Linked DNA regions of Homo sapiens. The protein of the gene in region 1 purifies or fractionates together with the protein of each later gene. This does not show direct contact. Each region holds a gene or a part of one and is shown in the gene's direction. Other genes may lie near its edges.

Region 1 (3,812 bases):
TGACAGATAGGTGCTGTGTTCATTGTATGCTGTTCTAGACACTTGGGTGTCTTGATACAGCAGTGAACTAAACAGACTAAAGGCCCTAACCCTTGGCCTTTACCTTTTTAGTGAGACTTTTCATTCTTATCATCAGCATTATAACCTTCTTCAGGGATCTAGGCACTGGTGCAATGATTCCAGACGTGGGCTGAGAGTCGGGGGCCTGGGCCCCAGTATGTTGGAGATCTTAGTTTCCCTGAGTCTGGATGGGGCCTGGTATCCACAGTCAGGGAGGGACAACCTGTCTGTAGTGCCCAAGGCACTATGACTGTGAGATCTGAGCTACTTATTGTCCCCGCAGTGGTGTCAGACCTGTGCGCCACAGGGGACCATGACTGTGAGCAGGTGTGCATCAGCTCCCCCGGTTCCTACACCTGCGCCTGCCACGAGGGCTTCACTCTGAACAGCGACGGCAAGACCTGCAATGGTCAGTGGGGTGGACACAGGCTCGCCCTGGAGAGGGTGTGGAGGGGAGGTGATGGGGCCTCCCCAGGAAACCCATTCAAGCCTCCCTGCACCATACCTCTGAACCAATCTTCAAAGCAGACAGATGCCTTTTAGAGTTTGGTATCTGCAGAAGTTCTCACCTGACTTCTGTCCCTGTTTTCAACACAATGGGCGGTGGGTTTAGTGTGGTAGAAGGACTCACATAGTCTCAAAATCAAATCCTGGTGCTACCACTTCTGAGCTGTGTGATCTCACAGCTATTGGAGTTTCAGTTTCCAATACTGTACAGTGGGACCAGTCACCTTGGCTTTATAGAGGCAGTTCTGAGGGCACAATGTAATGATCCTCAGCACAGAGCTTGGTGTGTGGTGGGTGTCCAGCCGGGGAGCAGGATGGTTGACTATGTCCTTCAGCTTCAGCCCGTTGCCTTCCTGTCCTCCACAGTCTGCAGTGGTGGTGGTGGCAGCTCGGCCACTGACCTGGTCTTCCTCATTGACGGATCCAAGAGTGTGAGGCCAGAGAACTTTGAGCTGGTGAAGAAGTTCATCAGTCAGATCGTGGATACGCTGGACGTGTCAGACAAGCTGGCCCAGGTGGGGCTGGTGCAGTACTCAAGCTCTGTGCGCCAGGAGTTCCCCCTGGGTCGCTTCCACACCAAGAAGGACATCAAGGCGGCTGTGCGGAATATGTCCTACATGGAGAAGGGCACAATGACTGGGGCTGCTCTCAAGTACCTCATTGACAATTCCTTCACTGTGTCCAGTGGGGCTAGGCCCGGGGCCCAGAAGGTGGGCATTGTCTTCACTGATGGCCGGAGCCAGGACTACATTAATGATGCTGCCAAGAAGGCCAAAGACCTCGGTAGGTGTTGCCTGCCTGGACCCTGGACACCACTGATGGCCAGGGGTACACACGGGTATAGCCCAACTGTAGTTTATCTTGGTGTCGTCTGATTAGTGCCCTAAACCCAGGTGAGTTTGAATGAGGAGGATTGGTTAGTCCAATTCTCTCTTATACCAATGACAAAATTGAGGCCCCAGAAAAGTAAGTGGCTTGTTTTGATGGTCCTTTTGTAAGTGAGGCTTGGAACTTTTCCAGCTGGATATTCCCAAGAACACATCAACTATTGGAAGGCAACTCTACTTTGGAACAAGCCCGAGTCTGTTTTGTAACCTATTAAATGAGGAAAAAATAACCACCAGATGGATGATTATTAGGGTTAAATGAAGCTTGCTGTACAAAGCTTCCAGTACAGGAAGTCACTATAGGGTCTGACACAGAGCAGAACCTCAGTAAATATTGATTTTCTCATTGTCCTTGTTCCAGGCATTGTGCTTGCAATTCCAGCAGCTGCCAGCAGGAGGTGTCTGGTGTTGGCTGCCTAAGCCTTCCCCAGGAGGCTCAGCCATATGGTTGCCCATCCCCATGTCCAGCCTTACTTCTCCTGTTCCTCCTGGCAGGCTTTAAGATGTTTGCTGTGGGTGTGGGCAATGCCGTGGAGGATGAGCTGAGGGAAATAGCCTCAGAGCCTGTGGCAGAGCACTACTTCTACACGGCTGACTTCAAGACCATCAACCAGATAGGCAAGAAGTTGCAGAAGAAGATCTGTGTGGGTGAGTGAGGCCAGGGCTGGCATTGATGGGATTTGCAGGTGGGGCACTGTGGAGGTGGAGCCATCCTGGAACTGGGTGTGGGTGGGGAAAAGCAGGGGCCGAGGTGGCACCAAGAGTTGGCAGAACCAGAAGGTGGGCTGGCGCTTACAGCTCTTACTACCAGCAAACATGTTGAATGCTCGTTACGTGGCTGGCAGTGTTCTCAGTGCTCTCCGGATATTACATCATCCGATCCTATTTGGTAAGAATGTCATTAACCCCATTTTATAGATGGGATAAACAAGGCCAAAGGGGTGGAACAACTGTTAATAGCTGGGAGAGCCAAGATTTGAACCCTACTGCCTCTCTGGTCCTCTCTGGTGACCTCACCAGCTGGTTCTTAGTGGTAAGGAGTGTGGGTTTCAGAGCCAGACGTGCCTGGGCCTGTGTCTTTGCTCTGACGCTGTTGGCCATGGGCAAGTTTTTTCACTTCTTGGATTCTTCACCTGTAAGATGGGATTAATGACTTCAAACCCAAAGGGCTGAGGTGAACTCACTGAGGTGACATAGGGGCCCCTACTAGTGTTCTTCATGCAGCAGGTACAGGGATGCTCTCCTAGTTCATTCTCAGGGCTCCAAGGGACCAGGAAGACGTTCAGGGGTCACCCCTCTATCACTCCTAAGGGTGCTGTCTCAAGGACTATCTATATCTTTCTGCCTCCTCAGGTCCCTTAAGCCCCTCACCTCCCCGGGAATCCTGAGTCCTGGCCCTGGGCAGTGACTGTCCTCCCTCCTCCTGGGCAGCCACTCAACAGTTCCTTTCTCTTTCCCTCCTCCTTGTCCCCTGCAGAGGAAGACCCGTGTGCCTGCGAGTCCCTGGTGAAATTCCAAGCCAAAGTGGAGGGGCTGCTGCAGGCCCTGACCAGGAAACATATCCCTTCCCAGAGGGGGCTGGGGCTGGGGAGGGGCGCAGGCCAGTGTTGGGGGAGGCGGGGGCATGGCCCAAGTGTGGTCAGTTGGGCAGGCTTCTCTTGGCCTGCTTACTGCTGATGGGCTGCATTCTGGCAGAATAAGCTGAAGCCAGCTTGGGTGCACACCCTGTCAAAAGCAGAGACTCCTAGAAGGTAAACAAGAAAATGAGGCAGAAGCCAGGATCTAGGGACTGGACACACACCAGAGTCCTGGACATGCTCTGAAGAACATGGAGCCCATGGATGCCCCATTTCTCAGGCTCATGGTGACGTGCCTGACCCCAGTACCCACTCAGAGGTGGGGCTGGGCCCCAGACAGTTCCCCTGGCTCAGCCAGGACTAGGTGGGGAACCCAGCAGGTCTAAATCTGCAACTGAGCAGGGCTGGGCACTCGTGGCTCACAGTAACTGGCTGTGTTTTTTGGAAAGCACCATTCTGAGGACAGTGGATGGATAAGTTCTGACAGAGGGGAGAATGCACGCTGTAGTGGGGTGTTGCAGGGGCCTGAGTGCAGGGCCACAGCCATCCCTGCCCTGCTCTGGCCAACCTGCACCTCTCCTTAACTCTGAGTCCACTGGAAGCTGTGAGTAAGCGGCTGGCCATCCTGGAGAACACAGTTGTCTAAGGCTGCCTGTCACCACTGTGGCCTCTCCAAGCGTCCTGCACGTGTCCGCCGTAGCTTTACCATTTTAGTGAGGGAAGCCAGCCCGGGGGTGGGAGGGGGTGTGTCTGGGTGTGCCTATTGAGAGCGTGTAATGGC
Region 2 (3,812 bases), on another chromosome or scaffold:
CGGCCTCCCAAAGTGCTGGGATTACAGCAGGCGTGAGCCACCACGCCCGGCCCTTTAAATCTCTTTCCACTGCTGTGGTCTTACTGTAGCCCCTTGTCACTTCCTGCTGCGCTGACCCGTAATTGACCCATAATTCTCCCTCTCTTCCCCTCCCTACCACGTTCCAAGATCTGTCCATGGTACCATTGCTGGTTGATCTTGGAACCCTGCTTCGGTCACCCCTCCTTTCTCTTCGCCCAGACTGGAGTGCAGTGGCACGATTTGGCTCACTGCAACCTCCACCTGTCAGGTTCAAGTGATTCTCCTGCCTCAGCCTCCCGAGTAGCTGGCACTACAGGCACGTGCCTCCACACCTAGCTAATTTTTGTATTTCTAGTAGAGACAGGGTTTCACCATGTTGGCCAGGCCAGTCTCGAACTCCTGGCCTTAAGTGGTCCACCCAGCTCAGCCTCCCAAAGTGCTGGGATAATAGGCAGGAGCCACTGTGCCCGGTCACTGTCACTGTCTTATTGCATGTTTTCTTCTTCATCTGCTTTCATAAAGGATAAACAGTGACTTAATAAAAGGTGTCTAATTCTCCCCTCCCTAGTGGCAATACGGTTGGACTAGAAGGTGAATTCAGTTGAGAACAGGGAACCTATCATTTCTGCGAGTGTAAGCTGGGGCATAGAACAATGCCAGGCATAAGGTAGGCACTTGGATGAATGGATGAATGAATAAATATGGCTTCTGTCCCCCAAGTTTACTGCTGAGCTTTCTCCTGCATATTGACTGAGCTCAGATGTCAAAATTGGGTCTGATCTGTAGTTTTTTTTTTTTTTTTTTTTGAGACAGAGCCTGTCACTCTGTCGCCCAGGCTGGAGTGCAGTGGCGCAATCTTGGCTCACTGCAACCTCTGCCTCCTGGGTTCAAGCAATTCTCGTGCCTCAACCTCCTGAGTAGCTGGAATTATAGGTGTGTGCCATCATGCCTGGCTAATTTTTTGTAATTTTAGTACAGATGGGGTTTCACCATGTTGCCCAGCTGGTCTCGAATGCCTGACCTGAAGCAGTCTGCCCGCCTCGGCCTTCCGAAGTGCTGGGATTACAGGCGTGAGCCACTGCGCCTGGCCTGGTCTGTACTTCTGAAGATTATTCCAAAGTACAGTAGGAACTTTTGGTAGGACTTTAGTTTTCCATCCAGGTATAAAATTTTGTGTCAGTGGTGGGGTTGCGCATGTTCAGTAGCTGCAACACTAGAAAGATGGCAAAGCAGGAGCAAAGAAAAATCCCTTTGGCTCCAGAAAATCTCCTGAAAGCAGAAGGCTTATCAAGGCCTCAAAGCCACCCAGTCAAAGTAGGCACTTTTGGCAAAGGAGGAGCAGAGGGAAGGAAAAGAGCTCAGGTTTAAACGACTGGAATCATTCCTACATGATTCCTGGCGGCAGAAACATGACAAGGTGTGTCTCAGACGACTAGAAGTAAAACCTCACACCTTGGAATCGCCAGATAAACATTCCTTGGCCTTTGTTGTACGCGTCGAAAGGATTGATGGTGTGAGTTTACTGGTGCGGAGAGCCATTGCAAGACTTAAACCTAAAAATGCAGCGTATAGTATGTAACCTTATGTGACCTGGGGATTTCCAAATCTGAAGTCTGTCCAGAAACTCATTTTGAAACGTAGACAAGCCAAGGTCAAGAATAAGACCATCCCTCTGACAACACAGTGATTGAGGAGCACCTGGGAAAGCTTGGTGTCTTTTGCTTGGAAGACCTCATTCATGAAATTGCCTTCCCAAGGAAGCATTTCCAGGAGATCTCATGGTTCTTGTCCCCTTTCCACCTCTCAGTGGACTGTCATGCTACCAAAAATAGTGGACTTTCTGAAGGAGATTGGCACACCTCCATCTTCTTGGGGGTGTGTGCATCAATCAGCTCATCCGCCAGCTGAACTAGAGCCAGGTGCCAAACTACAGTAAATTTTTATCAATGAACTGGAAGCTTGTGTTATTTTTGGGGGCGGGGTGGAATTTTTATCAAGTATCTTCAGAGAAGATTATTTCCTGCTTTATCTTCAAAAACTGTAAAGGAAGGGTCAAAGGAAAGACAGTGGCTGGCCGGGCCCGGTGGCTCACGCCTATAATCCTAGCACTTTGGGAGGCTGAGGCGGGCAGATCACCTGAGGTCGGGAGTTCGAAACCAGCCTGACCAACATGGAGAAACCCCGTCTCTACTAAAAATACAAAAATTAGCTGAGCGTGGTGGCACACGCCTGTAATCCCAGCTACTGGGGAGGCTGAGGCAGGAGAATCGCTTGAACCCGGGAGGCGGAGGTTGTGGTGAGCCAAGATCAGACCTTTGTCCTCCAGCCTGGGCAACAAGAGCGAAACTCCATCTCAAAAAAAAAAAAAAAGAAAAGAAAAGACAGTAGCTTACGTTCATGGCGGCACCTCTCATCACAGTCCAGTTCCAAGGAAAAATTCCAGCGTTTTCTACGTTGGCTGCTGCCTTGTCTGAAATCACATTTTGTGGAGAAAGGAGTCTTGCTTTGTTGCATCTTCTATCCTAGGGTTTAATGTTGGTGAATGAGTAACTCTAGCATTTGTACAAGGCTCCCTAAGAGTCCTGCAGCAGTCGACCAAGCCCGGGGACATAATTGAATCCGGAGATTCCTGGGGCCTTGAAAAAGGCTTGAAATATACATAGGAAGAAAGGCACAAAAATAAATGCTCACTTGTCTCTGCAAAAAAAAAGAAAAGAAAAATTGTGTCTCAAGTTCCTTCTGTAGTTGATAATTTATTCAGTAATCATTTTATAATTGAAGAAGAATATTCTGACTCTAAATCTTTCTAGATCAGTTACCTGGATGCTGAAGACATGAATAAATTTGTTTATTTTAAAAATCCTAGGGCCTGGCACAGTGGCTCATGCTTATAATCTTAGCACTGTGGGAGGCCGAGGTGGACGGATCACTAGAGCCCAGGAATTCAAGACCATCCTGGGCCACATGGCAAAACACCATCTCTATTTAAAAATTAGTGTTTTTAAACATCAGTGTTTAAAAATTAGCTGGGTGTGGTGGTGTGTACCTGTCATCCCAACTACTTGGGAGGCTGAGGTGGGAGGATCACCTGAGCCCAGGGAGGTTGAGGCTGCAGTGAGCCATGATCAGACCACTGCACACCAACCTGGGTGATAGAGTGAGACCCCCATCTCAAAATATACAGTAATAAATGAAAAATAGAAAATTCCCCAAATAAATAAATAATAGAAAATTCTAATGAAAATAAAAGGAGTTGAGTGTAACCGTTGAGTGTCTGCGCTGGGTGTTTATGTCTCATGTAACCAACGTAGCACTGTGAGCATGGTCATCCCGGAGACGGACTGTGATAAATCGTGTGCCCAGGATCCCAGAGTGCATAGGTGGCATATCTAGGTTTTGAACCAAGGTCTGTTGGTCTTTTATAGCTCAACTGGGTTGTGAGTTTGTTGAATTTCACTTTCCATGCTTTCCCCAACCAAACCAAAAACCAGAGGGGGAACTGAAAGCTGAGAGCCTAGTAATTGAGAAAAGGACTCTGGGAGGTGATGGTGTCAAAAAGCAGTCCAGGGAAGCTCTTGTGGTTGAGCACACAGCTCTGCCCAGAGCTTCCTAGATGCCAAGGCAAAGAAGGATGGGGTTACATAGCAGTTATTGGAAAAAGGAAGCTGACCAGTTTCTCATTAGTATTTTTCAGCTGGGCGCGATGGCTCATGTCTGTAGTCCCAGCACTCTGGGAGGCTGAGGCAGGAGGATCACTTGTGGCCAGGAGTTTGAGACCAGCCTGGGCAAGA

What was found.
Region 2: the proteins of MATN1 (region 1) and POR purify together in Homo sapiens (affinity purification with mass spectrometry; one large-scale study listed by BioGRID and IntAct). This does not show direct contact.

What each region holds. Positions count from the first base shown.
Region 1 is NC_000001.11:30,713,447-30,717,258, reverse strand, and holds part of MATN1 (matrilin-1 precursor), read left to right. Parts: intron 1-343; coding exon 344-469; intron 470-933; coding exon 934-1,350; intron 1,351-1,949; coding exon 1,950-2,102; intron 2,103-2,931; coding exon 2,932-3,012; intron 3,013-3,627; coding exon 3,628-3,677; 3' UTR 3,678-3,812. UniProt on the Homo sapiens protein: A major component of the extracellular matrix of non-articular cartilage. Binds to type 2 collagens and forms long concatenated protein networks as part of the extracellular matrix.
Region 2 is NC_000007.14:75,921,513-75,925,324, forward strand, and holds part of POR (NADPH--cytochrome P450 reductase), read left to right. Parts: intron 1-589; exon of another isoform or gene 590-688; intron 689-3,812. UniProt on the Homo sapiens protein: This enzyme is required for electron transfer from NADP to cytochrome P450 in microsomes. It can also provide electron transfer to heme oxygenase and cytochrome B5.